7 linked regions of the Homo sapiens genome follow. The gene in region 6 interacts genetically with the main gene of each other region. Each region holds a gene or a part of one and is shown on either strand. Other genes may lie near its edges. The genes, in order: SEC31A, CUL4A, CTNNB1, ETS2, CUL5, EP300 and MEF2C.

Evidence for each region.
Region 1: changes in EP300 (region 6) and SEC31A together harm fitness less than expected from each alone (positive genetic interaction), as found in Homo sapiens cells (one large-scale study listed by BioGRID).
Region 2: changes in EP300 (region 6) and CUL4A together harm fitness more than expected from each alone (negative genetic interaction), as found in Homo sapiens cells (one large-scale study listed by BioGRID).
Region 3: of EP300 (region 6) and CTNNB1, changing one enhances a phenotype caused by changing the other (phenotypic enhancement), as found in Homo sapiens cells (2 studies listed by BioGRID).
Region 4: of EP300 (region 6) and ETS2, changing one enhances a phenotype caused by changing the other (phenotypic enhancement), as found in Homo sapiens cells (one study listed by BioGRID).
Region 5: changes in EP300 (region 6) and CUL5 together harm fitness more than expected from each alone (negative genetic interaction), as found in Homo sapiens cells (one large-scale study listed by BioGRID).
Region 7: of EP300 (region 6) and MEF2C, changing one enhances a phenotype caused by changing the other (phenotypic enhancement), as found in Homo sapiens cells (one study listed by BioGRID).

The regions. Positions count from the first base shown.
Region 1 is NC_000004.12:82,859,938-82,864,155, reverse strand, and holds part of SEC31A (protein transport protein Sec31A), read left to right. Parts: intron 1-763; coding exon 764-838; intron 839-1,583; coding exon 1,584-1,622; intron 1,623-2,447; coding exon 2,448-2,525; intron 2,526-4,218. UniProt on the Homo sapiens protein: Component of the coat protein complex II (COPII) which promotes the formation of transport vesicles from the endoplasmic reticulum (ER).
Region 2 is NC_000013.11:113,212,356-113,216,573, forward strand, and holds part of CUL4A (cullin-4A), read left to right. Parts: intron 1-4,218. UniProt on the Homo sapiens protein: Core component of multiple cullin-RING-based E3 ubiquitin-protein ligase complexes which mediate the ubiquitination of target proteins. As a scaffold protein may contribute to catalysis through positioning of the substrate and the ubiquitin-conjugating enzyme.
Region 3 is NC_000003.12:41,233,785-41,237,504, forward strand, and holds part of CTNNB1 (catenin beta-1), read left to right. Parts: coding exon 1-83; intron 84-354; coding exon 355-513; intron 514-1,939; coding exon 1,940-2,059; intron 2,060-2,564; coding exon 2,565-2,715; intron 2,716-2,803; coding exon 2,804-2,925; intron 2,926-3,720. UniProt on the Homo sapiens protein: Key downstream component of the canonical Wnt signaling pathway.
Region 4 is NC_000021.9:38,815,929-38,820,146, forward strand, and holds part of ETS2 (protein C-ets-2), read left to right. Parts: intron 1-1,079; coding exon 1,080-1,163; intron 1,164-2,496; coding exon 2,497-2,718; intron 2,719-3,574; coding exon 3,575-3,838; intron 3,839-4,218. UniProt on the Homo sapiens protein: Transcription factor activating transcription. Binds specifically the DNA GGAA/T core motif (Ets-binding site or EBS) in gene promoters and stimulates transcription.
Region 5 is NC_000011.10:108,011,667-108,015,884, forward strand, and holds part of CUL5 (cullin-5), read left to right. Parts: intron 1-4,218. UniProt on the Homo sapiens protein: Core component of multiple cullin-5-RING E3 ubiquitin-protein ligase complexes (ECS complexes, also named CRL5 complexes), which mediate the ubiquitination and subsequent proteasomal degradation of target proteins.
Region 6 is NC_000022.11:41,155,092-41,159,309, forward strand, and holds part of EP300 (histone acetyltransferase p300), read left to right. Parts: coding exon 1-22; intron 23-2,077; coding exon 2,078-2,317; intron 2,318-3,320; coding exon 3,321-3,409; intron 3,410-4,218. UniProt on the Homo sapiens protein: Functions as a histone acetyltransferase and regulates transcription via chromatin remodeling. Acetylates all four core histones in nucleosomes. Histone acetylation gives an epigenetic tag for transcriptional activation.
Region 7 is NC_000005.10:88,725,582-88,729,799, forward strand, and holds part of MEF2C (myocyte-specific enhancer factor 2C), read right to left. Parts: intron 3,767-4,218; coding exon 3,637-3,766; intron 3,048-3,636; coding exon 2,912-3,047; intron 1-2,911. UniProt on the Homo sapiens protein: Transcription activator which binds specifically to the MEF2 element present in the regulatory regions of many muscle-specific genes. Controls cardiac morphogenesis and myogenesis, and is also involved in vascular development.

The sequences.
Region 1 (4,218 bases), on a different chromosome or scaffold from region 6:
AATACATTTTTAATAAGTAAAAAAAAATAATAATAGGTCTGTTTAGAGGAGAGCGACATAGTCAGCACACCTATTTTGAAGATGAGTACATAGAGTTTACTATAATGAAAACAGAATATTTAACATCTATAGTAGATCTAGTTAAGGAAAATGAAAAAAGAGGAAGAGGAATAGAGGAGAGAGGTTGGAGGCATTTTTCCTTTTACTTTAAGAGGAGTTAGATTAGAATAACAAATAGAATTTCCTGGTTGGTCATTTTGCCTCCACTGGAATGTCTGTTTCTTTATACGGTACTGGTTTTTCAAAGGTAAAGCAGTCTTGAATACAGTTAGGTTAAAGTATAAAATTAAAGAATTTATATTTTGTAATAATTTTGGGAAAGAATTTTAGGACATAGAATATTCCACATAGTTTGAGTTTTGTATCAGTTTAACCTTTGGACATAAGTTTGTATTTACAGAAATTACTGTTCAAAAGTAAGCTTTATTCAACCAGGATAATTAATTACTAGTATATTTACTATTAATAAATAACTTATTTAAAAAAATAATTCTGGGCACATGTTCTCAGGACCTCCTGAGGCTGGGTCTCCAAATAAAAAACAAAAAAACCCACTATTCTTTGGATTCCTTCAAACAGTGAATCTTTAGAATGTAGACTTCAGATATTTTTAATAATTCTCTTTGGAATTTGATTCATTCTTATAAAAATTCGGCCTTTAAATGTAGGTCTTTGTTTTAAGAATATGTCTTTTTTTTTAAAGGTAAACTTTGAGGATGATTCTCGTGGAAAATACCTTGAACTTCTAGGATACAGAAAAGAAGATCTAGGAAAGAAGGTAAACTTTTGGGAAAGTTAGATGGCATGCTCTTTATGAATCATACTTTTAAAAAATAAAGTTCTACACAGATTATCTCAAATCACCCAATAAACATTTAATAATAATTTGTGTTTGGTTGCCAGCGTTTTTTCCCTTTTTCTTTTTCTTATTCTCCATCATTACCCACAGTGGTTGCCAGAGTTTTGAATACATATTGATAAATGACTATGTAACTTGTATTAGCCTTTCATCATTCTTTGGAAATGGCTAGAGTTTTCTATAGCATTGCAGGTTGTTGCATGTGTGGTAGAGGTATACTGTGCACTTTAAGTGCATATTGAAGATTAGTGCTCTTTTGATGTCAGGCAGAACTAACTAAGATCACATCACAACCCCACTGCTTAGTGGCTATGTCTTTGCTCACTCCTTTAGAGTTTTATATTTAACTTTATTAGTAGTCTAAACTTCTTGAGGCTGTAACTTTTTTAGGCTTGTAAGAGATTGATATGAAAGTTTTACTTGCATGCCTGATGGCAAAAAATGAGGAAATAGAATGATTGTCGGATTATTTCTAATTACTTCCATGTGAAAGAAGCTAGCACCATGGAGAACCAGTTCTGCATAGCTTTTTTAATTTTTTTAAACATACTATTCCTATAAGAACTTTTGTGGATTTTCGCCAGTGAGAAGCAAGAGGTGAACATTTGCTGGATGCTCTGAAATAGAATTCCATGTAGTAGGTGAGCTGTTATTTTTATTTCAGATTGCTTTGGCCTTGAACAAAGTGGATGGAGCCAATGTGGTAAGAAGGCCTTTAAAAATAGCTACCTTCTAAAACTTTGGCTAGGTCATAACGAAGAAGGAAATATCATTTAAGAAATTTGTGTTTTATGCTTTATGGTATAAAAATAAATGCTTATTCTAGATATTTTAATAAATTAATAATTCTCATTTTAAAATAACATGAGCTTAGCTGGTAGAGCATTCCTTTCTCTTGACATACATATTTGAATTTTGTAAAGCAGGAAAAACAGAATTAATGACTACTCAAATACTTAAGATAAAATTTTTTTTTTTTTTTTTGGCCAGGAAAAAAAAAATGGTAGGAAAGAATGGGAAAGTGGGCCGGGTGTGTTGGCTCATGCCTGTAATCCCAGCACTTTGGGAGGCCGAGGCAGGTGGATCACCTGAGGTCAGGAGTTCAAGACCAGCCTGACCAACATGGTGAAACCCTGTCTCTACTAAAAATACAAAAATTAGCTGGGCGTGGTGGCACATGCCTGTAATCCCAGCTACTTGGGCGGCTAAGGCAGGAGAATTGCTTGAACTGGGAGGCGGAGGTTGCAGTGAGCCGGGATCGTGCCACTGAACTCCAGCCTGGGCGACAGAGTGAGACTCGGTCTCAAAAAAAAAAAAAAAAAAAAAAAAAAGAATGGGAAAGTGTTAGCAGTAATAGTTCTTTGCTTTTCCTCTAATGGTATTTCTCAAATAAATTTACTCACTGTTGCTTCTTATGATTAAACTAGCTCTGAATGTTGTTGGTTGGGTCTTTTGTCTTCCTGGTTCACTAATAGCCTTTTAATACTACATTCTTCACCTTCCCCTGTAATTGTTTTGTGTACCAAAGGCTCTTAAAGACTCTGACCAAGTAGCACAGAGTGATGGGGAGGAGAGCCCTGCTGCTGAAGAGCAGCTCTTGGGAGAGGTACTTATTTTTTTTTCATATTATATTGGACAAATTTGTGATATTTGTGTATCTCACATTAAAATAAGGAAAATTTTCTTGACTACTTATGGCAAAATAAAGTTGAAGTAAATTGTTTTCTTTGAGATGTTTAGGATAGGAATCTATCTACCTATACTGACAGAAGTATCATCTCCAGACTCTAGTTCTCCAACCTTGTTTCTGGATTATATGGTTTAAAACTAACAGTTGATGTGAGATTAACATAATTTGGTCAGATGACTCTCAGGATGTCAAACTGAAAAGAGATTTTATTCAAACATCCTCACTGCATTGCATTGCATGTAAAGTTAATGTTTTTCTTGGCCTATAATTTTGGGCCAACTATCAGTGGCTAATAGGCCTCTGAATTAGTACTGAACATGGAGTTGAAGTAAAGGATATTTCACTAAACTTATTGTCATGATTTTCAATAAATGTGTCCTTAGTTGATAATTTTTGTAAATAATTGAGAAGAGTCCTTGAACACAGAGTTACATCATTAATTTTTCCTTTTAATTTTCTGGGTGTTTTTTTTTTTTTAACCACTAATGAACAAATCTGTAATTTACTTTTCTTGCTTTCTAATTTTATTTCATCTTGGAAAATTAATCAACAAGTTCTTCTCATCTCATCTTTGGCTTTTTCATTGTTCTTTGTGATATCTTGACTATGGAATGTTATGTATAATTTTTTACTAAGTTATAAAAATAAGTAAATTTAGTCTATTACAAGATGATTGCAAAAATCATTCTCCTTAGAAGTGGATCTCCTAGAGTTTAATTAACAAGGGAATAAAGGATATGGATAAAATCTTTACTAAAACTTTGAACTAGGCCAGGCATGATGTTTGCTTATGCCTGTAATCCCAGCACTTTGGGAGGCCAAGGTGGGAGGATCACTTGAGGCTATGAGTTCAAGACTAGCCTGGACAACATAGTGAGACCCTATCTCTAAAAAAAAAAATAAAAAATTAGCCAGGCGTGGTGGCACATGCCTGTAGTCCTAGCTATTTGGGAGGCTGAGGTAGGATCACTTAAGCCCAAGAGTTCGTGGTTGGAGTGAGCTATGATCACACCATTGCATTCCAGCCTGGGTGACAGAGCAAGACCCTGTCTGATTTAAAAAAGAAAAGAACTAATTTTGAGAATATTTAGACAGAATTGTAAGATACATAGAGAAATGTACTTTCATTTATGTACAACTAGACTATGTATTATCAAATAGAAGATCATTTGGGAATGCACTCATGAATAATAGGTAAGAAATATATGCATTTAATGAAATAGTAGTCATCAATGTGTACTTTTGGTTCTTTGAAAAAATGTGTTTAAGGAGGTAAAATCTTCCCCTTTGTCTCAATGAGCTATTTGTTTCATAGTAGCTTACACATTGAAGGCACTCAATACCTAATAAATTGTGCATTTTTTGACCTTATATCTCGTTCAGAAGTCCATAAATAAGGATAAATTGTTTCTAGAAAGCAAATTTGAGAAATAATGAGTTAAAAAAAAGAAAAGTGGCCAGGCGCAGTGGCTCATGCCTGTAATCCCAGCACTTTGGGAGGCCGAGGCGGGCAGATCACGAGGTCAGGAGATTAAGACCATCCTGGCTAACACGGTGAAACACCACCTCTACTGAAAATACAAAAATTTAGCCAGGCGTTGTGGTGGGG
Region 2 (4,218 bases), on a different chromosome or scaffold from region 6:
CAAGAAATCTTGCTTAATCTGAGGTCACAAAGTTTTCTCTTATACTTTCTTCCAGACATTTTAGAGTTTTAGGTTTTACATCTAGGTCTACGATCTATGTAGAGTGAATTTTTGTATATATTGTGAAATACAAATCTAGAGTCAGAGTCGGGTGCAGTGGCTCATGCCTGTAATCCCAGCACTTTGGGAGGCCAAGGTGGGTAGATCGCCTGAGCGTCAGGATTTTGAGACCAGCCTGGCCAACATGGTGAAACCCCATCTCTACTAAAAGTACAAAAAATTAGCCGGGCGTGGTGGCAGGCACCTGTAATCCCAGCTACTTGGGAGGCTGAGGCCGGAGAATCGCTTGAACCCGGGAGGCGGAGGTTGCAGTGAGCCGAGGTTGTGCCACTGTACTCCAGCCTGAGCAACAGAGTGAGACTCCATTTCAAAAAAATACAAAGAAAAGTCTAGAGTCAGTGTTTTCCCTGCAAATGTCCAGTTTTTCAGTCTCTTTTCCCCTACTGAATTGCCTTTGCTCCTTTGTCAAAAACCACGTAGGAGTAGGAGGAGTGAGTTGTGAAATCAGGGTGTGTTGGCCCCCCAGCTTCATACATTTGCACAGGTTTCTGGCTATTCTTGGTCCCTTGTGTTTCCATGTGAATTTTAGAATCGGCCAATTTGTATAAGAAAGTGTGCTAAGATTTTGATTGACGGTATATAGAATCTACAGATCAATGTAGGAGAATTAAATTCTTAACAGTATTGAGAGTCTGGGCTCAGTGGCTCACACCTGTAATCCCAGCACTTTGGGGGGCTGAGGTGGCCTGATCGCTTGAGCCCAGGAGTTCGAGACCAGCCTAGGCAACATGGTGAAACCCCATCTCTACAAAAAATTTAAAAATTAGCCTAGTGGGGTGTTGCATGCCTGTAGTCCCAGCTACTCAGGGCCCCCACACCACAACCTGGAAGCTCTTCACACAGGAAGCTGAGCAGTTGGGGCCTGTTTGTCTCCCATCTTTCTGAGATTCACTGTCTTTCATAGCCCAGTACTCAGTGCTTCGAAAACTGTTGCTTCGTATATTTTGCCTGATTTTGTGGTTATTTCAGGCAGAAAGTTAATACAGTTCTTGTACTGTGTCTTGACTAGAAACGAGTCCCACCTGAACTCTCAGAGGTCTTTGGTTTAATAAAATATGATACCTTACAGCTAAAGCTTCTTACTACTCTTTTCCTGGAGATTTGGCTGTCTGATATCTGCTGCCTCATTATTTTTACTTAAAAAGGCGGAATTACTTTGCAACACCTTGTACACAGTGATATGTCTTATAAAACAATCACTAGATATTATGAACAATGTTTGTAGGTGCCTTAGGTGTCTGTCTTGAAACCCTGAGAACTAGGAGTGCTTACCCCAAAATGACAGTCACTGGTTCCTCCTTGGAATGAGACATCGCAAATTCCAGGGGCATCTCTGGAGGTGCTGCCCCACCAGGGGATATGTGGAATCAGTTGATTCACTTACTTGTGATCATCTCTCCACGCACAGGTGGGCTTCTGGCCTCTCACAGAGTCTGAAGCATGAGCTGCCTCAGATCTATTGGAAGCAAATGGGATAGAAATCTAAGAAAAGCAAATGTGAAATTACTGATGTCTGATCAAGCAGGCAATACATTTGACTTGGTGTTTCAAAATAAAGTCTCAGTTTTTGTATAGGTGGGGTGGTGTATACTTTGCCAAAGAATCTTATGTGAAAGGACCAATTCTCACCCAAGTTTGAAAGGTTTGGTTTCGTGTTTGGTTTTTGGTTTTGCTCACTCTCCCTCTACGTCTAAACACCTTAGGAGTCCTGTCACTTACACTTTTTGGGCCTCAGCTGGCCTGTTGTTTCTGTTTGTTACTTTGTTTTTATCATTTTCCTCCTGTAGTGTGTAGAGGAGAATGTTGTGAAGGCATGGATCTTTTCCATTGAACGACCTGAATTTCGGTCTGTAATAACTAACTCCTGAAGAAAGTGCATCTTCTGTGTCTTGTGTCTCTATGTTTTAGTCCTGCTTGTTGCTAAATGAGACAACAGAAAACTGAAGACTGCATTTCTAGAAAGGTTTCAGAGAAAGGCTGTGTTTTGATTTAGAACTGGTTTTTTTGTTTTTTGTTGCACAAAAACAAACCTCTCAGGCCCTTTAAAAAAAAAGAGAGAGAGAGGTGTGGCCTCCCTATGTTGTCCAGGCTCCTTGGGAACTCCTGGACTCAAACAGTCCTCCTGCCTTGGCCTCCCGAAGTGCTGGGATTCCAGGCGTGAGCCATTGCACCCGGCTGACATGCAAGTTCTGAGGAAAGCCAGGCTGTCTTTCTTGAGTCACGGAGTAGTTGTCTTCATGACATGTTGATACCAGGTGATAATGGTCAGTGAAAGAGAGAGGTTAGTCCTTTGTATTAGGTGGCATCCTTCCCTCACACCCAAGCTGCAGGCCCAGCGTAGGAATGGGACCTCCACAGCCACACAGGTCTCATCCTGTGTGGCTGTGAAGGTCGCTATATGACTCTGGAGGTAGCTATGTGACTATGGAGGTCTCGTCCCGTGTGGCTGTGGAGGTCGCTGTGTGACTGTGGAGGTCACGTCCCATGTGGCTGTGGACATCTTGTCTGTGTGGCTGTGGAGGTTGCTGTGTGACTATGGAGGTCTCGTCCTTTGTGGCTGTGGACGTCTTGTCTATGTGACTGTGGAGGTTGCTGTGTGACTGTGGAGGTCGCGTCCCGTGTGGCTGTGGAGGTCACTGTGTGACCATGGAAGTCGCGTTCCGTGTGGCTGTGGAGGTCGCTGTGTGACTATGGAGGTCTCTCTCGTCCGTGTGGCTATGGAGGTCTGTGTGGGAGTATGGAGGTCACATCCCGTGTGGCTGTGGAGGTCGCTGTGTGACTGTGGAGGTTGCTGTGTGACTATGGAGGTCGCTATGTGACTATGGAGGTCGCTGTGTGACTATGGAGGTCTCATCCATGTGGCTGTGGAGGTCTCTGTGACCATGGAGGTCACGTCGCATGTGGCCGTGGAGGTCGCTGTGTGACTATGGAGGTCACGTCCCATGTGGCTGTGGAGGTCGCTGTGTGACCATGGAGGTTACTGTGTGCCTATGGAGGTCGCTATGTGACTATGGAGGTTGTTGTGTGACTATGGAGGTCTCGTCCATGTGGCTGTGGAGGTCTCTTTGTGACTATGGAGGTCACGTCCCATGTGGCCGTGGAGGTCTCTGCGTGACTGTGGAGGTCACGTCCCGTGTGGCTGTGGAGATCTCTGTGTGACTATGGAGGTTTCATCCATGTGGCTCTGAAGGTCTCTGTGTGACTATGGAGGTCGCGTCCCATGTGGCTGTGGAGGTCGCTGTGTGGCTATGGAGGTCGCGTCCCGTGTGGCTGTAGAGGTCGCTGTGTGACTATGGAGGTCTCGTCTGTGTGGCTGTGGAGGTCGCTGTGTGACTATGGAGGTCGCGTCCCATGTGGCTGTGGAGGTCGCTGTGTGACTATGGAGGTCTCGTCCGTGTGGCTGTGGAGGTCGCGTGTGTGACTATGGAGGTCTCGTCCATGTGGCTGTGGCGGTCTCTGTGTGACTATGGAGGTCTCGTCTGTGTGGCTGTGGAGGTCTTTGGGTGACTATGGTGGTCACGTCCCATGGTCCCATGTGGCTGTGGAGGTCGTGTGTGACTATGGAGGTCTCGTCCACGTGGCTGTGGAGGTCTTTGTGTGACTATGGAGGTCACGTCCCATGTGGCTGTGGAGGTCGCTGTGTGACTATGGAGGTCTCATCTGTGTGGCTGTGGAGGTCTTTGTGTGACTATGGAGGTCACGTCCCATGTGGCTGTGGAGGTCTCTGTGTGACTATGGAGGTCATGTCCCACAGCTCCATGGCCTTCCTTGTTCTGTCTTCCACATCTGAGAGCAGGGATTGCCCTTATCCGCAGTGAGCATTTTGTTTAAGTAGCAGTGAGTTCACTCCAGGCAATGCTTTGACACTATAAATAGACGTGTATTTGACATTCACACACGTGTCTGTTGAGCTAATACAGACAATCATTTGATGAACCTGCTAGTTAGGAAGTAGCTGTGATGTGAGAAGAGACAGTGCTGGCTGTAGATATACACCAAATTTCCTCACTTGGCTGTTGATACAAGGAAAGCATCTTGATACTAATAGGAGTAGAATGCAAATGATACTTCTCTACCTCCGATCATTGGATTACATTC
Region 3 (3,720 bases), on a different chromosome or scaffold from region 6:
CCCAGAATGCAGTTCGCCTTCACTATGGACTACCAGTTGTGGTTAAGCTCTTACACCCACCATCCCACTGGCCTCTGATAAAGGTAAATTGTCAAAGTAGAATTTACCTTTGTTGCAGAATTGAAAATGAAGCATCTCTAGCTGTTGGATGGCTGTCTAAGCATAGTGATCAATAAGTAGGAATTGTATTCCTTAGTAAGTAGGAAGTATGGCTGCGATAGGGGTAAGATTCTGAAATGTTTGTGTAGTCAGAACTACTTTTAGTTGATACCAATAGATTTAGTGTGGTGGGAATTTTAGGGTAAGAAAATGATTTTGTTGAGTTGTATGCCAGTTCTTCCTTCTGTTTTTCAGGCTACTGTTGGATTGATTCGAAATCTTGCCCTTTGTCCCGCAAATCATGCACCTTTGCGTGAGCAGGGTGCCATTCCACGACTAGTTCAGTTGCTTGTTCGTGCACATCAGGATACCCAGCGCCGTACGTCCATGGGTGGGACACAGCAGCAATTTGTGGTAGGTAAATTCTTACAGTGATACCTGGCTATCTAAAAGGAATGCATAAATCCAAAGGATCCTGAACTTCTTTCTTTGGTCATTGGTTCCCCCCATCCGTCTTCCTGAAGAGCTAATGACAAAGTAAATAAATAAATAATTACACATTTCTATGGCTGCAGAGAAAATAAGGCATAGTGTGGCCCCAGTGATATTTCCTTGGACACGTCCTTCACATGGTCAGTCTTACAAAGGTTGGGTTAGGTGTTTCATAAAGTGTTCTCATTTAATTTACACAAAGGCCCACTTCCTTAGGAAGAGGTAGAGTCATAATTTGAGATCAAATCTGTGTAATTTCAGAGCCTCTTACCCTTGCCTCATCATGCATTTTGACTATAAATATTTAGCAGTCCGTTTTATTATCTTTTCTGTGAGTTAAACTTTTTTCATGGACCTAAGAATATTCAGAAATAAGTAGTAGCATTTCTGTACTCTTAACCACAAAAATCTCAACCTGAAGCTTTGATACAAAGTTTGTGTCTTAAAAGTAGCTTCATTAAAAGTATAGTCTAATGACATTTCTGATTTCTCAGACTTTAAGACCTTATTAGGTTAGTTTAGAAAACAAAGATGGAGCCTACCAGAACAGATGTTAGGAATCTCATTTTGCTGGTTGCTTTGTGTATGTACTCATATTGGGGCTTTGGCTTTCTTCATTTATTACTGTTGGTATTGGCCCATCTCCATGAGGTGACTTAATAGAACGTTGAGGGCACCTTTTATTTTAAATCTCTTTTCTAGGAAGAAGAGAGTTTTTGTGTCCTTGTAAGAATCAAGTTATTTATAAAAGCTGCTAAATGTAGCAGAATAATAACCCCTTTTAAAACTCAAATCCAGAAACAGGAGAAACAGATGGTACTTACATATTGCAAAAGCTATCTTCCTTCTATACATGAGGCTGTCAGCTGAATAGTCTTGGAAGAGTGAGGAGTGAATTTTTCTGCTGGCAACTCGGTTAGTTTTAGCAGTTGGTGCTAAAACTTGGCAAAGTTTTCACCAAATACATGGAAGATATACAAAAATAGAGGGGGCATGTAAAAGAAAAACGTTGACATAGTCTGAGCATTACTTTCTCATCTTCTCTTTTTATATACCTTTTACCCAGAATGATTGGTGCCCTTACTGTAGGAAAGTTGTCTTTGGGATTCAGCGCTGTATGGAAGCTCTGTTGCACTGTGTATGGGGGAGGGGTGCTGCTTTGAATTAGTGCTGCCAGGAGGCCTCTTTTCAGTGACATTCAAGTTAATGGAATCCTTCTTCCTTCCTGAACTAATTGCAAGTTACGGGGAACTTCGGGTATATAATGTAAATAATTACAGTCTAATAATTGTTCCTCAAACTTTACAGAGGAGAATGCCCTGTTTGTTAACCATGTTTCTTTTGGCAGGAGGGGGTCCGCATGGAAGAAATAGTTGAAGGTTGTACCGGAGCCCTTCACATCCTAGCTCGGGATGTTCACAACCGAATTGTTATCAGAGGACTAAATACCATTCCATTGTTTGTGCAGGTATGTTTTAAGTGAAGTGTTCTAGGTTTTATGTCCATAAAATTTCCAGATTGTAATGACTAATAACATTTCAGAAAATTAGGGACCATAATAGGGTTACCAACATTTAATTTTATGAAAATTCCCTACATTTTTTGGTCAGTAAGAGAAACATTGAGACTTGAGAAGAGGGAGGAGATTTCACATTTCACTTTTATGGGTGCCTAGAGGGGAGAGCTGACCTGGGCTGCCAGAGGCAGGGCATAGACCCCCAACCAATTCTGGGTTTTCCAAATCTTAGATCAGTTAGAGCTGCCTCTGAAGAAAGGGTTTATAGCTAAAAAATATTATGGAAATCCAGTGCTCCAGAGCATTAAACACCCCAAGACATAAAATTCAGAGAATATTATTTACTACAGTGTGAATGCCTCTTGCACTCTGAATTGGGAATGTTTGCACCACAGTGGGGGGCTTGCCATGTTTTAGCTTTAGATTTAATTAGGTTTTGTTTGTGTTTTCTCCTTAGCTGCTTTATTCTCCCATTGAAAACATCCAAAGAGTAGCTGCAGGGGTCCTCTGTGAACTTGCTCAGGACAAGGAAGCTGCAGAAGCTATTGAAGCTGAGGGAGCCACAGCTCCTCTGACAGAGTTACTTCACTCTAGGAATGAAGGTGTGGGTAAGTAAAAAGGAACCAAAGCCTTTAGCAGATGTGTACATTGAAGTCTCAGTTTTTCCTCAAGGGCCTTTTTCTCCTTGTCTCTTAGCGACATATGCAGCTGCTGTTTTGTTCCGAATGTCTGAGGACAAGCCACAAGATTACAAGAAACGGCTTTCAGTTGAGCTGACCAGCTCTCTCTTCAGAACAGAGCCAATGGCTTGGAATGAGGTAGGGAAATGTGAGCAGTTATTTATCTGGTAGTTTCCTAGAGCAGGTATGGCAGCTTGTTCTTTCCTCTCAAAACACTTAGTACACATTCATTTGCATTGATGTTTCCCTGGCTTGAGTATTTCTTCTTTATGCTGTCTAGCAACTGCTCTGAGGAAGAACTATAATACAAGCTTTAAAGAGTCTGTTCAGAATCATTACAAATAAGTTGTGTTATTTAAAATTATAATTCATAAGGGAGAAAGATGAAAAATGTTACCAGATTAAAGAAGATTTTTCAAAAGGATGTAAGGAAAGAGGCAGTGTTAAACACTGTTAAGAGGACAGTTTATCAGTATTTTTTACTAAACTTTAATAAAACTTTTCTATTTGAATTTCTGCTATGAATTTTTCTTCAGCATTTGTCCTCAGTACAGGTGGTTCCTTGAAACATTGTTTCTAATAAAACTAGAACATCCTGATATTTTATCCATTCTATAGAGATCATTGATGGTACACAGACATACAGTGGATTATGTTTGTTGAGTGAATGGAAAGAGAGATTGTTAGGTTTACAACGATGCAGCTCTTGAGACCGGAGTTTAAGATCAGCCTGGGCAACATAGTGAAACCCCATCTTTAGCTGGGCATGGAGATGGATGCCTATAGTCCTAGCTACTGGGGAGACGGGGGCAGGAGGATTGCTTGAACCCAGGAGTTAACAGACTGCACTCAGTGACAGAGCCAGACTCCAACACAAAAAAAAAAAAAAAAAAAAAGCAAATTACCAGTGAGTAGTGTGTTACTTGGGTTTTT
Region 4 (4,218 bases), on a different chromosome or scaffold from region 6:
CTGTTGAAAGGAAGGAAGGAAGGAAGGAAGGAAGGAAGGAAGGAAGGAAGGAAGGAAGGAAGGAAGGAAGGAAGGAAGGAAGGAGGGAGGGAGGGAAGGAAGGAAGGAAAGAAAGAGGGAGGGAGGGAGGGGAGGGAGGGAGGGAGGGAGGGAGGGGAGGGAGGGAGGGAGGGAGGGAGGGAAAGAAATAAAATACAGTAGGGATTATTTAGGTTAAAAAAATATAAGAAAATAAGCATGTTTATAGAATTCAGGGAACTAGTCCTCACCTGACTGATTTTAAACACACTGAATTTCAGCATCAACTGTAGACTCAGAATCTCGAAAACACCTAGGATTCAACAGCTAACTTTTTTTAGTTACGGCGTCTGAGGGCCAGGGAAACTCATTTTTAAAGACCCTCATTTCTTCTGAACTTGGACAGGGCTTTTCTACCAAGTTTCTGGTGATCTGTTTATTGGCAAATTGGGCCTGTTTTACCATTCCTCGGGCCTGTGAGTTTGTGTGTATTTGGGTTTCCGGGTGGACGTGCACTTTGTAATATATTCGTAGTAAGTATGCATACACAGTGCACAAACCTTTTCCCTTTCAAAGTTCTTGGGCACATGTGTTCCCCATCCCAGACTCCCACAGCCCTGGAGACTTCCCACACCCTGGGGAAGCGTGCAGGTTTGGAAGCAGTGGAACTGTAAGCTTCACGGGGGCAGACACCATCCATTTTATTAATTTCCTGTATGCAGCCTCTGGTACAGATGGCATTTCATAAATACTTAACTGTTTCTTGAATGCATGAATGAATTCAATACACCATCTGGACCTTTTGCGATAGAAAATTTAGTGTTGCCAATGACATCATTCATTTTGGAAAATTTATTTTAGTAATTGGAAAAATGGGTTGCTTTCTCTCGTTTTTTGAAAAAGACAGGCAGGGACGTGGAGCACCATGAGATTAAATGTGAAGCACTCCGTGCATCTCATCATTCTAAAATTATCATCTCACAGGAATTCAGAAAGTCAATTTGTTCTGTGTAGTTTTCACCTACATCTGCCATCTTACGTCTCCTGTGTCTGCTTTTCAGAAAACCAAGAAAAGACAGAAGATCAATATGAAGAAAATTCACACCTCACCTCCGTTCCTCATTGGATTAACAGCAATACATTAGGTCAGTCCGATTGATTCTGCCCTTAAGAACTTTGTCTTCAGTCTTCCCAGTAGACTTGGAATCTCTCTACTGTAGGCTCCTAAGGGGCCACCTAGACCTGTGTGTCTCTTATGGTGGCCACACGTGGGTGTTGAGCTATAAGCCATTGAAATGTGACTGGTCCACATCGAGATGTGTAGGAAGAGTATAGTCATGCACACCAGATTTGGAAGTCTTAGTATGAAACAGAGAATATAAAATGTCTCCCTGATAATTTTTAATGTATTGATTACATATTGAAATGATAATTGCTATATGAGGCCAAGTAAAATAAGAAAATTAACTTCACCTGTTTCTTTTTGCTTTTTTAATATGGCCACTAGAACTTTCGCAGTTGCTTAAGTGGCTCACACGATCTTCCATAGGTCAGCACTGTTAGTGCTAGTCCAGGCAATTCTTAGAGCAAGGAGCAGAACGAAGTGAGCTGATTACCGCAGTCACCAGTAATGTTGGTTTAGTGTAGCAAACAAGAGGCGGCAGGCACAGAGTGCGTGAAAAGCAATTTGTAAACTGGCTCTGAACTTGGGAGCTTAAAGAGCTGTCATGGAATCTGGGTCCTTTCTTCTGGTTGCTGATACTGGGGAGGGCACAGGGTCTGGCCAGGCCAGCGAGGGAGGGGTCCTCGGAACAGCAGGCTTGGGTGGTGTTGGTCCGGCCCAGTGTTTTCTCTCTGGCCCCAGCTCCACCATTCAGACCCGGTGAAGCCCACCTCTCTGCCCCACTGGGGGCTTCCTGCTCAGGAGGTCTTTCTGAACATGACAGTGGGACACCCTGTGCCTGCCTGAACCTGAATCAGAGTCAGAGAGCTTCCTTCCCTCTCCAGAAAATAAATTATTCTGCAATGAACAGAGACAGGAGCGGTGTGATGAAGGAGCAGAAAGCAGAGTGGGCTGTGCCTCAGCACACAGGGTTCATGGCCTGGTTCTGCCCTTATGAATCACACAGTACATGACACGTCACTTGGTCTGTCTGAGCCTTACTCTCCTCGGAAGCTAAAAGAGCCAGTGAGCCCTGTCTTCCTGAAGGTCCCATGAAAGCACTAGGGTTGTAGAAATAGGAACATTGAGTCCTGCCTGCAGAGGCTGCAGTCATTTTGGCAGAGGGCTGCTGGTTGAGAAGCTGAATGGTTTGAGAAGAAGGCCTGGTGACAGACCCCCACCAAAGCCCGGGTCTCCACTGAGGTTCTGCAGAGGGCTGGAGTGTGCGGAGTGCTCACCTGTCATTTGCTCGTAGGGGTTAGTTACTGGGGTAACACTGACTTTAAGAGCTCTGCCGTCCGATTGTTCTGTTCCAGGTTTTGGCACAGAGCAGGCGCCCTATGGAATGCAGACACAGAATTACCCCAAAGGCGGCCTCCTGGACAGCATGTGTCCGGCCTCCACACCCAGCGTACTCAGCTCTGAGCAGGAGTTTCAGATGTTCCCCAAGTCTCGGCTCAGCTCCGTCAGCGTCACCTACTGCTCTGTCAGTCAGGACTTCCCAGGCAGCAACTTGAATTTGCTCACCAACAATTCTGGTAAGATTGGAAGCATCTTTCAACAAGGCTGTTGCTTTGATTCTGAGAACCCCAGAGCCATAATGAACCTCTTAATAAATACTTCCTGGATTCAGCCATTAGAGAAGGGGGTCAAAGCCCATGTTCTAAGTGGATTTCCAACAAGCATACCCCTAATATGTTTCAGGCACTGGCCCAGGTACTGCAGGCATTGAGTAAACAAAACAGTCCCTGCTCTTACAGCCAGATTTCTCCACACTTTGGGATATTTATGGAGGCGATGCAGGAATGTGACATTTCTTCTTATGGAGATGTAACATAAATACAGTGCACAAGTCTCAGGTCATGTGGCTGGTTGGATTTGTGTATGTATGTATACCCATGTAATAACCATCCAGATGGAGATAGAGAAGTTTCCAGTAGCCTGGAAGATTCCTTCGTACCCCTTCCCATCAATAATGTCCCCCCGACAGAAGGGAACGATTCTGACTTTTATCATTACGGATTAGGTTTTGATTTTCTTGAACTTTACATAGATGGAATCATAAGGCATGTTTTCTTTTGTGTTTGTCTTTTACTCATCATGTCTGGGATTCATGCATGTTGTTGGATGTAGCAGCCATGTGTTCTTTTTCATCGCTGTATAGTATTCCATTATAAGAATTTTATTCATTCTACTGTTGATGGAAGATAGGATTTGTGTAGTATAGTTACCCTAAGGAATAAGCACCTGAGTAGAGAGCATTTTGAGAAGTCTGAGTGGTTCTACACCAGCAGGTGCATGATTGCACTGGTAGTGGTTGGTGATGCTATGGTCGTGCCCAAGACCAACTGTGTCCTGGAGGAATCAAAGTATGTGTTTGGTTGTCTTTGCCAGGGACTCCCAAAGACCACGACTCCCCTGAGAACGGTGCGGACAGCTTCGAGAGCTCAGACTCCCTCCTCCAGTCCTGGAACAGCCAGTCGTCCTTGCTGGATGTGCAACGGGTTCCTTCCTTCGAGAGCTTCGAAGATGACTGCAGCCAGTCTCTCTGCCTCAATAAGCCAACCATGTCTTTCAAGGATTACATCCAAGAGAGGAGTGACCCAGTGGAGCAAGGCAAACCAGTTATACCTGCAGCTGTGCTGGCCGGCTTCACAGGTGTGTGTGGAACTCCGAGAGCCTGGCCGCCCAGTCTCCTGGGTCCTGTCCCTTGCTTCCTTTCGAGCCACAGTACCACATTCACCGAGGGTGTTTCTAAGCTAGGTACACCAGTGCTCTACACTCCATGTTTTATGCGTGGCTTGCTGTATCTCTGAATTCGACAAAAGCCACACTTGGAGGAATTTTCATGTACACAGAGCTCCATGGAATGAGTGAAAATTGACAGGCCACTCCCTCCACCTGGGACGTTCTGAGGAATAGTTGGAGCAGGGGACATGGCCTGTGCAGTCTTCAGCCCTGACTCACCCACTCCAAGAATCTCAAAGAATGTAAACTGGCTTAGGGAGGGGCAGCAGAGCCAGTCTCAAATAATATGG
Region 5 (4,218 bases), on a different chromosome or scaffold from region 6:
TGCCAGGCTGGAGTTCAGTGGTGCGATCTTGGTTCACTGCAACTTCCGCCTCCCGGGTTCAAGCGATTCTTCTGCCTCAGCGTCCCGAGTAGCTGGGACTACAGGCGCACGCCACCACGCCCAGCTAATTTTTGTATTTTTAGTAGAGACAGGGTTTCACCATGTTGGCTAGGATGGTCTCCATCTCTTGACCTCATGATCCACCCTCCTCGACCTCTCAAAGTGCTGGGATTATAGGCGTGAGCCACCATGTCTAGCTGCTTTTCTTTTTTAATATTGGAATTTGACTCTAATAATTTTATTGTCTGTTTAAAGCAAGTGGACTATTGCTGGATCTTAGAAGTCTTTCAGCTATGTAAAGATTTGTGTAGCACATTTTGACATATACAGTTAACTGCTTAGGGGTTTTGTATCTCTGAAAACCTTTCCATGTAACTACTTTATCTTTGTTGTTTTTCCTTACAGAGTGAGTCTGTAGAACATTTGTAGGGATCTGATATTATAATTTTATCTTCTGTTTTAGATTACTTTGAACATGTAATTGTGATTGTTCCTTTTCTTTTGCAATTATCATCTGGGCCCTTAGTGCTCATTTTTTTCATTTCCAGTTTATTGTTCCACCCCAAACAGCAATTGTTTAAACCTTTTCTTGCTGAGCCTCACCCCTCTTAATTCTTAGTACATTACTTTACCCAGCTATTTGAAGTGCCCTTAACTTCCTTGGTCGATACCAAACATTTTTCTTGTTTCTCCTATGTTCTTCTCTGTTCCATGCTACCTCCCAAATTGTCTCATTCTGCTTGTTCTTTTTCAGTCCTCATCTTCCCCCCAGGACTTGGTGGTATGTCCCCTCTTACTTTTTTTTTTTTTTTTTCAGTTTCCCTTTTTTCTCCTATGCCTATAAGAAAGTTCATATGTCGCGTCATATAAACTTTTCTTTTTTTTGGAGATGGAGTTTCGCTCTTGTTGCCCAGGCTGGAGTGCAGTGGTGTGGATCTCCACTCACTGCAACCTCCGCCTCCCAGGTTCAAGCAATTCTCCTGCCTCAACCTCCTGAGTAGCTGGGATTACAGGCACACGCCACCACACCCAGCTTATTTTTGTATTTTTAGTAGAGACGGGATTTTACCATATTGGCCAGGATGGTCTCAAACTCCTGACCTCAAGCGATCCGCCTACCTCGGCCACCCAAAGTGTTGGGATTACAGGCGTGAGCCACTGCACTCTGCCTCCTCATACAAACTTGTACTCTGCCTCTGCCTCAAACTTCTGTTTCTCACTGTCACAGTTCTTGGAAAAGCAGCCCCCATTTGCTGCCTTTATAATTCTTTGCCCTTTAACTTAATGATATGGCTTACTCTTCTCTCCCACCCAATTGTATAGAACCTGTCAGTCATAAAAGTATTAGCAACCTCCTGATTATCAAATGAGATTCTTCTCTGATAATATTTATCCTCTTTTCTGGTATTATTGCTCATTTCCTCTGCTTCTCTTTTGGTTTTTATGACATTCCCTCCTTGGTCTTCTCTCTCTCAAATCACGTTTGTTTTTCACTGACTTCCCTCCCCTGTCCCCAATAGAATTATTTCTCAGGATTTTATCTTCAGCCCTTTTCTATCTTTGTATATTTTTTTCTGGGACAGTCTTAACTCCCATGATTTCACTATTTTTATCTCTTAGCTCTGATCTGAGCTCTAGATCAAAATGCAGTTCTCACCATATCACTTTCCTGTTCAGATACCTTTGATGATTCAAATTATTTGAGATCTTTCCAGCTGGGTCTTCTCCTGATAACTAGTATTCTCTCTCTCTGTCTCTTGTCTCTCTCTCTCATACATGTGTGCGTACACACTCCTACTTAGCTGGTTACTTGTTGGCTCACTAGCATGCCAGAGGTCGTCATCTCCCTAATAACTAACTCTTAACTTTCATTCTCTCTCCTTCTGATTGGATCTAGTGAGATGGAGGCACAAGAAGGCAGTAGTATATAACCGAACCACAAGATAAATCAAACTTTAAACTGAAATATGATTCATACTACTTTTCTCAGTGGACTTTTTTTTATCCTTTAAGAGGAAAGAAAATGGAAATGTAAAGCAGTGATTCAGAGTGTCTATAGAGGCCGGGCATGGTGGCTCATGCCTGTAATCCCAGCACTTTGGGAGGATGAGGTGAGAGGATTACCTGAGGCCGACCTGGGCAATGTAGCAAGACCCTGTCTCTATAAAACAACAACAATAAAAAGTGCCTGTAAAAGTTATTCATTATTAAAATAACTTTATTGACATCCATATGCAAGGTACCATGGAGAATGCAAAGATATGTAGAACAATGTCCATGCTCTTTGGGAATTTACCATATGCTAAAGGAGAGTAAAAGGTACTAATGATTTATGATAAGGCAAAAGTTTCAGATGTGTTACCAACTGCTCTATGCTCCCTCACAGATTGAGGAAATAATTTCTGGTGGGATGATCAGTGAAAATTTTATGGAGAAAGTGTTGGAGCTGGATTTTGAATAAAGTGTTGGAGCTGGATTTTGAATAATGGGTAAGCTTTTTGTATTGGTAATTAGGAGAAAATTTGGTAGGAATCTAGGCTAGATCAGTGTGGCTGCAGTGTAAGCAGGGCTGCATGCTGTGTTAGATATTCTATATGAATAGTGTTCCTTGGGATTGTTGCAGCATAGAAACCCAGAATACAGGGAAACAACAAGAGGGATAGGAGTGAAAGGGAAGTCGGGTCAGATTACAAAGGGCCTTCAGTGCTAGGCAAGGGGTTTGAAATAAAGTTCTATAGTTACTGAGGAATATTTGAAAAATATGTGGGCAGAGATACTCTCAAGCCCTCAATCTATTTTTGGCTTTTACACATAAATAAAAGTTATTATATTTTCTGTATATTTATAATCTGCTTGTGAGATTGGCCATGGATGAGGGGCATTTGTGCCAGTGACATCTTGTTCATTGAAACCGTAACCATAGCAGGAGTAATTAAGTCTATGGGAAATACATTTATTCATTGAACGAGAATTTAGTATTTCCTAATTCTAACTAGATAATGATGAACTAGGCAGACAGCTCCTGCCCTTGTATAATTTACATTTTTGTTGGGAAGAGAGACAATAAACATAAACAGTGAAATACATACTGTAAGTCAAGTTGTGATAGGTACTATGAATAAAAACAACCAGGGTAAAAGAGAGAGTGCTCGGTGCTCTTATTATTATTATTATTTTTATTTTTATTTTTGAGACGGGGTCTCACTCTCTTGCCCAGGCTGGAGTGCAGTGGCACGATCTTGGCTCACTGCAACCTCCACCTCCTGGGTTCAAGCAATTCTCCTTCCTCAGCCTCCCGAGTAGTTGGGATTACCGGTGACCACCACCATGCTCGGCTGATTTTTGCATTTTTAGTAGAGATGGGGTTTCACCATGTTGGCCAGGCTAGTGTTGAACTCCTGACCTTAAGTGATCCTCCCACCTCAGCCTCCCAAAGTGCTGGGATTACAGGCATGAGCCATCACAGCTGGCTTATTTTTGATAAGATAGTGAGGGAATGCCTCTGAGGAGATAATAGTTGAGGTAAAACCAGAATGAAGCAAGGGAGCAAGTCATGTACATATTTAGAAGAGTTCCTTGTAGAGGGAACAGCCAGTGTGAAAGCACAGAGTCAGGATCATGCTTGGCAAGGAATATGGATGTGATACGAAGATTTGAATATCATCGGTGAATGTGGTTAAGGTGCATAACCAGAGAATTCTTTTTAATATGTCTAGTTAAACATAAATGAGAACCTTATTAAGAACTTGTCAATTTTTCATTGGGTTGATAGAAATTGCCCTCTTGAAACGTATATCTAAGAGGGACATGGGCCTTAGAGCGGCCTTCCCCTCCTTCAGTGTACTGTCCTAGAGAGATGGTTGCATTCGACACAGCCTAGGGAGGAAACAAATTTCAAGGGTGTCTGTGTTGGTCATGGGTAGGAATGGGAGAGGGAATAGTGGACTAATCAGTAACTGTAAAACTTTGTGATACATGTAAATGGTAGAATCTTTCATGTTCTATGAAAATAAATGATTGAACAATTACCATAATCTGGAGGTGATGTATGTTAATTAAAACTTCTAAAAGGAAGTGGCAGCTCAGGGTAAATTTTGATCAGTCATTTTTCAGTAGATTAGAGGAGGGGAATTTTAGACTGCTGGAAGGTAGAAAGAG
Region 6 (4,218 bases):
CCCTCAGCTTTTAGGAATCCCTGTAAGTATTTGGTGGTACTTTTGATTTTATTTTTTAATTTGATAACAGCTTTATTGAGAGATAATTCACATTCCAAACAGTATAGCCACTCATTTCAAATTTGTAATTCAGTGATTTTTTTTTTTTCCCCCTGAGACAGGGTCTTATTCTGGTTGCCTAGGCTGGAGTGCAGTGGCACGATCGTGGCTCACTACTGTCTCCACCTCCCGGGCTCAGGTGATTCTCCCACCTCAGCATCCTGAGTAGCTGGGATAACTACATTCATGTGCCACCTCACCTGGCTAGTTTTTTGTATTTTTTAGTAGAGACGGGGTTTCGCCATGTTGCCCAGGCTGGTCTTGAACGCCTGGACTCAAGCAATAGGCCCATCTCAGCCTCCCAGAGTGCTGGAATTACAGGTGTGAGCCACTGGGCCTGGCCTAATTCAGGGAGTTTTAGTATATTCACAGAGTTGTGCATGACACTTTCATTTTCATCATCTGAAAAAAATCCTTTACCATTAACAGTCACTCACTATTTTCTCCCATAGCACCCCAATCCTAGACATCACCAGACTGCATTCTGTCTCTGGATTTGTCTGTTCTACATGTTTCATTAAATTGGAACATACAGTATGTGATTCTTTGTGCCAGGACGTTCCTTAGCATAATGTTTTCAAGGTTCATCCATGTTGTAGCATGAATCAGTAGCACATACCTATTTATAGCCCAATAATATTCCATTATTTTTCTTTACCTGTTGATGAGTTGATAGACATTTAGGTTGTTTACACGTTTTGACTATTAAGATAGGACTGTAGTGAACATTGTGTGGATTTAAGTTTTTATTTCTCCTTGGTATTTACCTAGGAGTGGAATTCCTGGGTTATATAGTTTGTTTACTTTTTTGTTGTTGTTATTTGTTTTTTGTTTTTTTGAGATGGAGTTTCACTCTTGTTGCCCAGGCTAGAGTGCAATGGCGCAATCTCAGTTCACCTCAACCTCCCCCTCCCGGGTTCAAGCAGTTCTCCTACCTCTCAGCCTCCCGAGTAGCTGGGATTACAGGCATGTGCCACCATGCCCGGCTAATTTTGTATTTTTAGTAGAGATGGGGTTTCTGTATGTTGGTCAGGCTGGTCTCAAACTCCCAACCTCAGATGATCCACCCACCTCGGCCTCCCAGAATGCCCAGATTACAGGCGTGAGCCACCGCACCCGGCCACTTTCGTTGTTTCAAGAGCAATAGGTCATAGCAGAAAAAAGGACCGTGGTTAGCTTTGTTTTTAAAGTTGCCTCCATATACTAGGCTGCTGGCAGATTTCATTTGGTGGTTTTAAACTGTTACTTGGCCGGGCACGGTGGCTAACGCCTGTAATCCCAACACTTTTGGAGGCCAAGGCAGGCAGATCACTTGAGTTCAGGAGTTGGAGACCAGCCTCACCAACATGGTGAAACCCCATCTCTACTAAAAATATAAAAAGTAACTGGGCGTGGTGGTGCACGCCTGTAATCCTGGCTACTTGGGAGGCTGAGGCAGGTGAATAGTTTGAACGACCCTGGGAGGCAGAGGTTGCACTGAGCCAAGATTGCACCACTGCACTCCAGCCTGGGCAACATGTTGACAGAGACTCCATCTCAAAGGTCAAGTGCTTCCAGGGGCAAAAGCCTTTTAGGACTTTTCCTCTCTTGTATCTTGCTGTGATTTCAGATGGAACATTTTAAGTTCTGTGGGCTTAGTTTCCTCATTGTACACCCCTTCTAGTACTAAAATTTTAAATGTCTTTGACTTTACTGATCTCACATGTACTTTCATAAAGAACCTGAAGTTGCTTCAGTAGAATATCAGCCTGATGTCTAGAAAGTCCATAGTAGTTCTGTTTCTCTGCCCTTTGAGTAGTTTAATATCTCTGTAAACTAATATTTAAAGAAGTGATGGACATCAGTCACCTCTTGGGGAATATAGACAGGCCAGAAACTAAAACACTGCCTGGAAAATTAACAATGATAATGGATGATACTCCATCTCCCGTAAAAATAGTGAGACTTGAGTAATGTTTGATGTCACTTGTCTTTCTAGGATTACTTTGATATTGTGAAGAGCCCCATGGATCTTTCTACCATTAAGAGGAAGTTAGACACTGGACAGTATCAGGAGCCCTGGCAGTATGTCGATGATATTTGGCTTATGTTCAATAATGCCTGGTTATATAACCGGAAAACATCACGGGTATACAAATACTGCTCCAAGCTCTCTGAGGTCTTTGAACAAGAAATTGACCCAGTGATGCAAAGCCTTGGATACTGTTGTGGCAGAAAGGTAAGAAATGTGTTTCAGATTTGACTTTAACTTTTCTGGGATACCTAGAATAATATAGTGGTGACTGGGATAAGAGAATATCCTGCTTCTGGCTTTGACATGGCTTTTTTTTTTTTTTTTTTTTTTCCTTTTTGACAGGGTCTTATTCTCCCAGGCTGGAGTGCAGTGGTGAGGTCATAGCTCACTGCAGCTTCAACCTCCTGGGCTCAAGCAATTCTCCCACCTCAGCCTCCTGAGCAGCTGGGACTACAGCCGTACGCCACCATGCCTGGCTGATTTTTTAAATTTGTTTTGTAGAAACAGGGTCTCATGATGTTGCTCAGGCTAGTCTTGAACTCCTGGGCTCAAGCAGTCCTCCTGCCTCGGCCTCCCAAAGTGCTGGAATTACAGTCATGAGCCACCTCTCCCAGCCAACACAGTCTTTCTCTTACTGTGTGCCACAGTAGTAATATCTCTTAATATGAAATGGGCTTTCTTTAAAGGCATTTTTTCAGAGTGGCAATTGTATGGAAAAGTTGACTAATTAAATAATCAACAGACTGTTAACTCATCTGGAGTAGGGGCATTCTTATATTCACCTGTGGGTGCAGATTCCTCAGCATGTGCTGGCTTTCCTGTACATACCAATTCACATTATTGGTTTTTTGTTTTTAAAATAAGACTATGGTCTTGCTGTGTTGCCTAAGCTGGTCTGGAACTCTTGGGCTCACGCAGTCTTCCCACCTCAGCTTCTGAGCACTGCAGGCATGTGCCACCCTGCCCAGCTATTCCTGTTAGGTTCTTTGGTAAAGTGATGGAAGGATATGACTGCTAAGCCTACCTCAGCGTTTTGAAATAATGTGGTAGTAAACTGAGAATGATTTTCAGGAACTGAATTAGCCCATCATTATTAACATAAATGAGAACTAAGACACCACTGACTTCTGTTTCTGACTTGCCATTCTTACTGTTCTAGCTTGTCCTTAAGGCCTCTGTGCTTTTTAACAAATGGTTTCTTTTGCAGTTGGAGTTCTCTCCACAGACACTGTGTTGCTACGGCAAACAGTTGTGCACAATACCTCGTGATGCCACTTATTACAGTTACCAGAACAGGTAAGCTTGGCCAGGTGTGGACCATGGTCCATGTGTCCACATGTCCAGGGAGTGCATGCGGATGGGCCAGCACACATACAGTCATGGTTCATGTGTATCTTGCTTGAAGACAGCTGTATAGCACAAGTTCTGTTTTTTGCCTTCTGCCTTTGTTTGCAGAACAATAAAATTTTCTATCAGAGTAGCCTTGCATCAGTTACCTGGGTTCCTCCCAAGAGCTTGAGAAGTTAAGCAACTTTGTGAGTTGTTGGCCTAGATGGGTCTATATCCCAGGCCCCACTTCTCTTTCTACTGTGTGTTTGTTGATCACCACAGCCTGAGGCAAAACTGAGAAGATTTTTAAACTTTTAACTGAAACTCGCTAGACAGCTTTTTGGAAATATTTCCTTTTTAGATGAGGCCTATCCCTAAGTAGTTGTTATTAGAATATATGAAAACAGGATTCTGGAGTCTTTTCTTTGCCTCATATTAAGCAAATTAAAAGGAAAACCTCACATAGCTCTCTGTACCTTACTTTTCCCAACCCAGCCTTGTATGTGACAGAGGATGATTTGAGTCTAATAAACGAGGCACCTCTGCCTAATTTTCTCCTGCCCAATCAATGGCTGTAATCACATAAATCTCATTCACTAATCTATCTTAACCACAATTTGTCTCCTGTTTTCAGTGATCAGCTACAAGTATAGCTTGCATTGGGTGTTTATTTGGGGCTCTGATACAATAATAACAAGGCTGGATGATATTAATACCCTTTATTTGTTTGTTAATACCAAATCCATGGTGTTGGTTTTTGCTGAACTTGTGTGTTG
Region 7 (4,218 bases), on a different chromosome or scaffold from region 6:
GGAGATAGAAGCCAGATATGCAAGTTACCCATATCAAGTCCTCTATGCAAATTTTCATCTATTACAGATGCTTTTGAATTGGGAAAACTCCTACCCTTTCCCATAATTGTTCAGAAATCAAACATGACTGGATAGTTTTATTCAAAATTTTTACTGCCTCCGCCTGGAAATTAGACTATCAAACTATATTTAACCTAACCTTTTATAAGTCATCTCTACTCAGAGTTATCTCTCTCAGTATGTACTGAACACCCACATCAACAAAGTTGACGTATGGAAATGCTTCCAGAAAACAGGCTGCCCTTTTTATAGGTGGTGGTTTAGAAAAACACTAAAACTTAGTGTTACACTAAATCAAATATTAGTATTCAAAGGACTTTCATTAACTCTTGATGGCAAGTTCCTCTGTCAGCCATCTCTCTCCCTATAGCAAATAAATTTGTGTTGCTTACTTAGCTTGGTTAGATAAAATCAGATACTAGGTTTTAAAAGTATAGCTTTGAAGACTTAAAGCTCCAAAGGACAAAATGAACTTTTTTTCCATGGACAAAATATGAAGAACTCTGTTTATGGTTTTGCAATTTTGAGAAAGAATTGTGGTAACCATCTTGGGCTGCTGGGAATATCTACTTTGGTGGAGCTGAAATATATTCCACTCTGCTATGAACATTGTCTCTAGCCAAAAGAATGTGAGCCCGCAACACAAATCTCTGCGACAACTTTGGCCTGGAAAATGTATCAATTCTTTTTAAATTGATTTACACTGTAAAGAATTAAGGATGCTCATGTGAATTACTTTACATAAGTATTGCAGCTTGGGATTTTTTAAAAAAACAGTTTAACATTTAATCGTGTGAATATGAGGTAGTCCATGTGAAGGAACCTCCTTTCAAAAAGCTACTCTGTGTGTGATTGTGAGAGGGAGAAAAGAGTGTGTGTGAAGCAGAGAGAGAGAAGGGCCAACAGTGGAAGGACTGGAAGGGTCATTCCATTGATTTGAGGGGTAAGGGAAGTGATTAAGTGCAATTAAAACTCACAGAGAAAACTAAGAGTCAAATTAAGCACAACGAAATTAAGTGTTGAAAGGAACCGGGAGCTGAACAAAATGCTTAACCTTTGGCTGTTGTAATTCAGTTCCTTTCTGTCTAAGGCTGTCCCTCCTTTCTCATTTTCTGAAACCTCTATTAGAGGCAGCAGAGAATTAGATTCTTCCTTGTAATAGAAAAGAGTTTTAAAATTGTAGTACAGCTAAAATATGTAAATAAATATGTGTTTATATGTAAAAATATAAATTATCAGGTACTATTGAAAACAAAAAAAAGCCACATTCAGAGAAAATAATATGGCTTTTGACATTGATAACTTTTAGGGAAATCTAGCCCTATAATGGATGAATTTTGTGAAAAAAATGGGAAATAAGCAGTTATGTTTATTTTTGACAAGAATCATGTTCAGTGGATTCCCTGCTAAGCCATAGCAGTTGATACTTTGTACAAAATATGTATACATGTACATATTTTTTAGTTGCCTGGATGGAATTATGTGCTTGGTGATAATTACCTGAAGAAGTTCCCACAGTTAATGTCTACTTGAATAGTTAACATTCCAGAGAAAATTTAAGTGTCCTAAAAAGATAAAACTCTGCGCTGATCAATATGTAATGTATCTTCAAAGTTAACTATCTTTCAAGAAAGCTGACCAACAGTATCACGTGAATTTATCTTACTATTTAAATGAAAGGTTAGATTTTCAATGACAGTGATTAGCGGGTAGGATGAACATAAGCAAACAGTGTACGGGTGAATATTTCATAATCAGATCACTAATATATGCTAAATCACTATCATGTGAAAGCTAGTGGGTGGGGGGAGAGAGGGCACCAGCAAACATAAGAGACACAAAGTTGTGGTATAAATCAGTGACTTTTATACTAATCAGTGTTTTATTCTCACTGTCTCCTTAGACATATGGATATATAACTAGTTAACTAATACAGCTAAGTGATTAACGATAACAAATGGCTAAGCAGAAAAGTAAAAGTGGGCTAGGCAGACAGAATATTTTTAAAATATAAAAGCTTGTTATCTTTAAATATTTTATATCCTCCTGGTATTTTCTTTTGAAGATTAATTGCAATTTTGGACTTATTAAATTTACAGTCAGGCTTTCAGTTAACGTTTTAAGCTTTTTTAAAAAAATGATTTGTTTTATATGAAATAGTGTGAATTGTGAATTCAGAGCTTTTTAAAGGTTTGAACGTTTCCATAGATAAATGACAAGAGTCATTTCTATGATAAAGACATATCTGAAAACTACCACAAGGGGGCAGAAAGATACATCCTCTGACTACATAAAACAAAAATTATTTTTATATCCAAATTTAGGTAATTAGTATTATATGTACTAGTTAGTATTATATACATATATTTCTTAAAATATCTATAAGTATACAACTATACTATGAGTACATTATAAATACATGAAGCCTGTGTATCAATTGACTAGTTGTTCCTATGTGTATTAGGTTAACATTAGCATAAACCATATGGTTTATGTGAAAAAAGAAAAATTCTCAAATATCTAAGCTTATACTATAAATGCCTTCTTATGTCCCAAATGAACTGTGTGAAAACTAAATAAAAATTATATCACTGATAGAAGTGGAAACAAATGTAGCCTAAAACAATAAGGAAAGAATTTACCTCATTATTACAGAGCTCGCTGTCCTCTTAAAAAACAGGTATATAAGATTTAAGCTACTTGAAAAGTATTGATCTGAAAATTACACTTGGATTTCAATAAAGTAGAGTTTTATACCCGTTAATGGGATATTGAAGCACATATTTAGAGACTGTCATTTGTTTTTCAAAATACATTCTAAAATTATATTATAAAAAATAATATTGCTTACCCCAACTGACTGAGGGCAGATGGTGGCATGTTATGTAGGTGTTGCTGTTGCCAGCCAGTTACTGAACCAAGGTGAAGAGCGCTGGCGGTGTTAAACCCAGACAGAGATGACAGGTCTGCACTACTCAGAGAGTACTCTAGATTAAAGAATAAAACAACAAGGGAAAATATTAAATTTAGAAATTATCAAATGGTAAATAGAATAAACATTTTCAATTTCCAAAATATTCTATTAGGATTATCGTTATTATAGATATTTTTAATTTTGAGGGGAGGGGAGATAAAGCATCAGCGATAATTCTAATTTAAAAGGAATATACTATAAACCAAAAATAAGTATTCCACGAATGCTCTGAAGTAGCATAGTCCGCAATTCTAGTTTATTAGAACTACAATCTAGTATAAAGGTATGTACATATTTGATGATGTAGAAATGTTAAACAATCCTGAGAAAGTGAGCTTTTTATTACATCAAAGAAACAGCTCAATTTTCTTGAAAGTGTGTTTCTATTTTGAACTCAGGTTGCATAAATAAAACTTTCAGTCAGTTAAGAAAGAAAAATGTGGATATTCACTTTGTCTTAGTGAAGAATGGGTAATGCTGCAGTGCTGTGGACGGCGCAGGCCCTAAATAAAGCTTCCTAATAGAGTAAAAGATAACTTTTTCATCTTGATTTTCAATAAAAAGTATTTAGTGTACTAATTGCACATGACAAAGCTACTCACCGGTACCATATGTTGTTGAAATGGCTGATGGATATCCTCCCATTCCTTGTCCTGGTAAAGTAGGAGTTGCTACGGAAACCACTGGGGTAGCCAATGACTGAGCCGACTGGGAGTTATTTATCCTTTGATTCTTTTAAAATAAATAAAAAGACATTACTGATGAATTTTTTTAAAAGTTAAAAATATTAGATTTCAGTATTAGTTTTCCACATAAAGAGATAACTTGGTACAAATCTCATGAAATTAATCATTTAACATGTGTCTCTATGAACTCTGCCAACCCTATCATTTACAATCCTTCAAGAGACCAGCTGTTGCCATAGTAACCCATTACATCAGTATCTCCTAGGCAACTGAACTAGTAACAAGTACCATAGCTTTATTATGGGTAAAAACAGACTATGTTGAAAACTGATGAAATATGTATACTGTACTTCCATTGTTTCAGTTTTCATTCAAATGCAAATTAAAAAAAAATTAAAATCAACCATGGTAGTTTTTATGTTCAGTTCTACATACAGCAGAGAGCAAATGAGTAGGGGCTCATGTTATATTTTGACCAGCAGGTGGTGCTGTGACCAC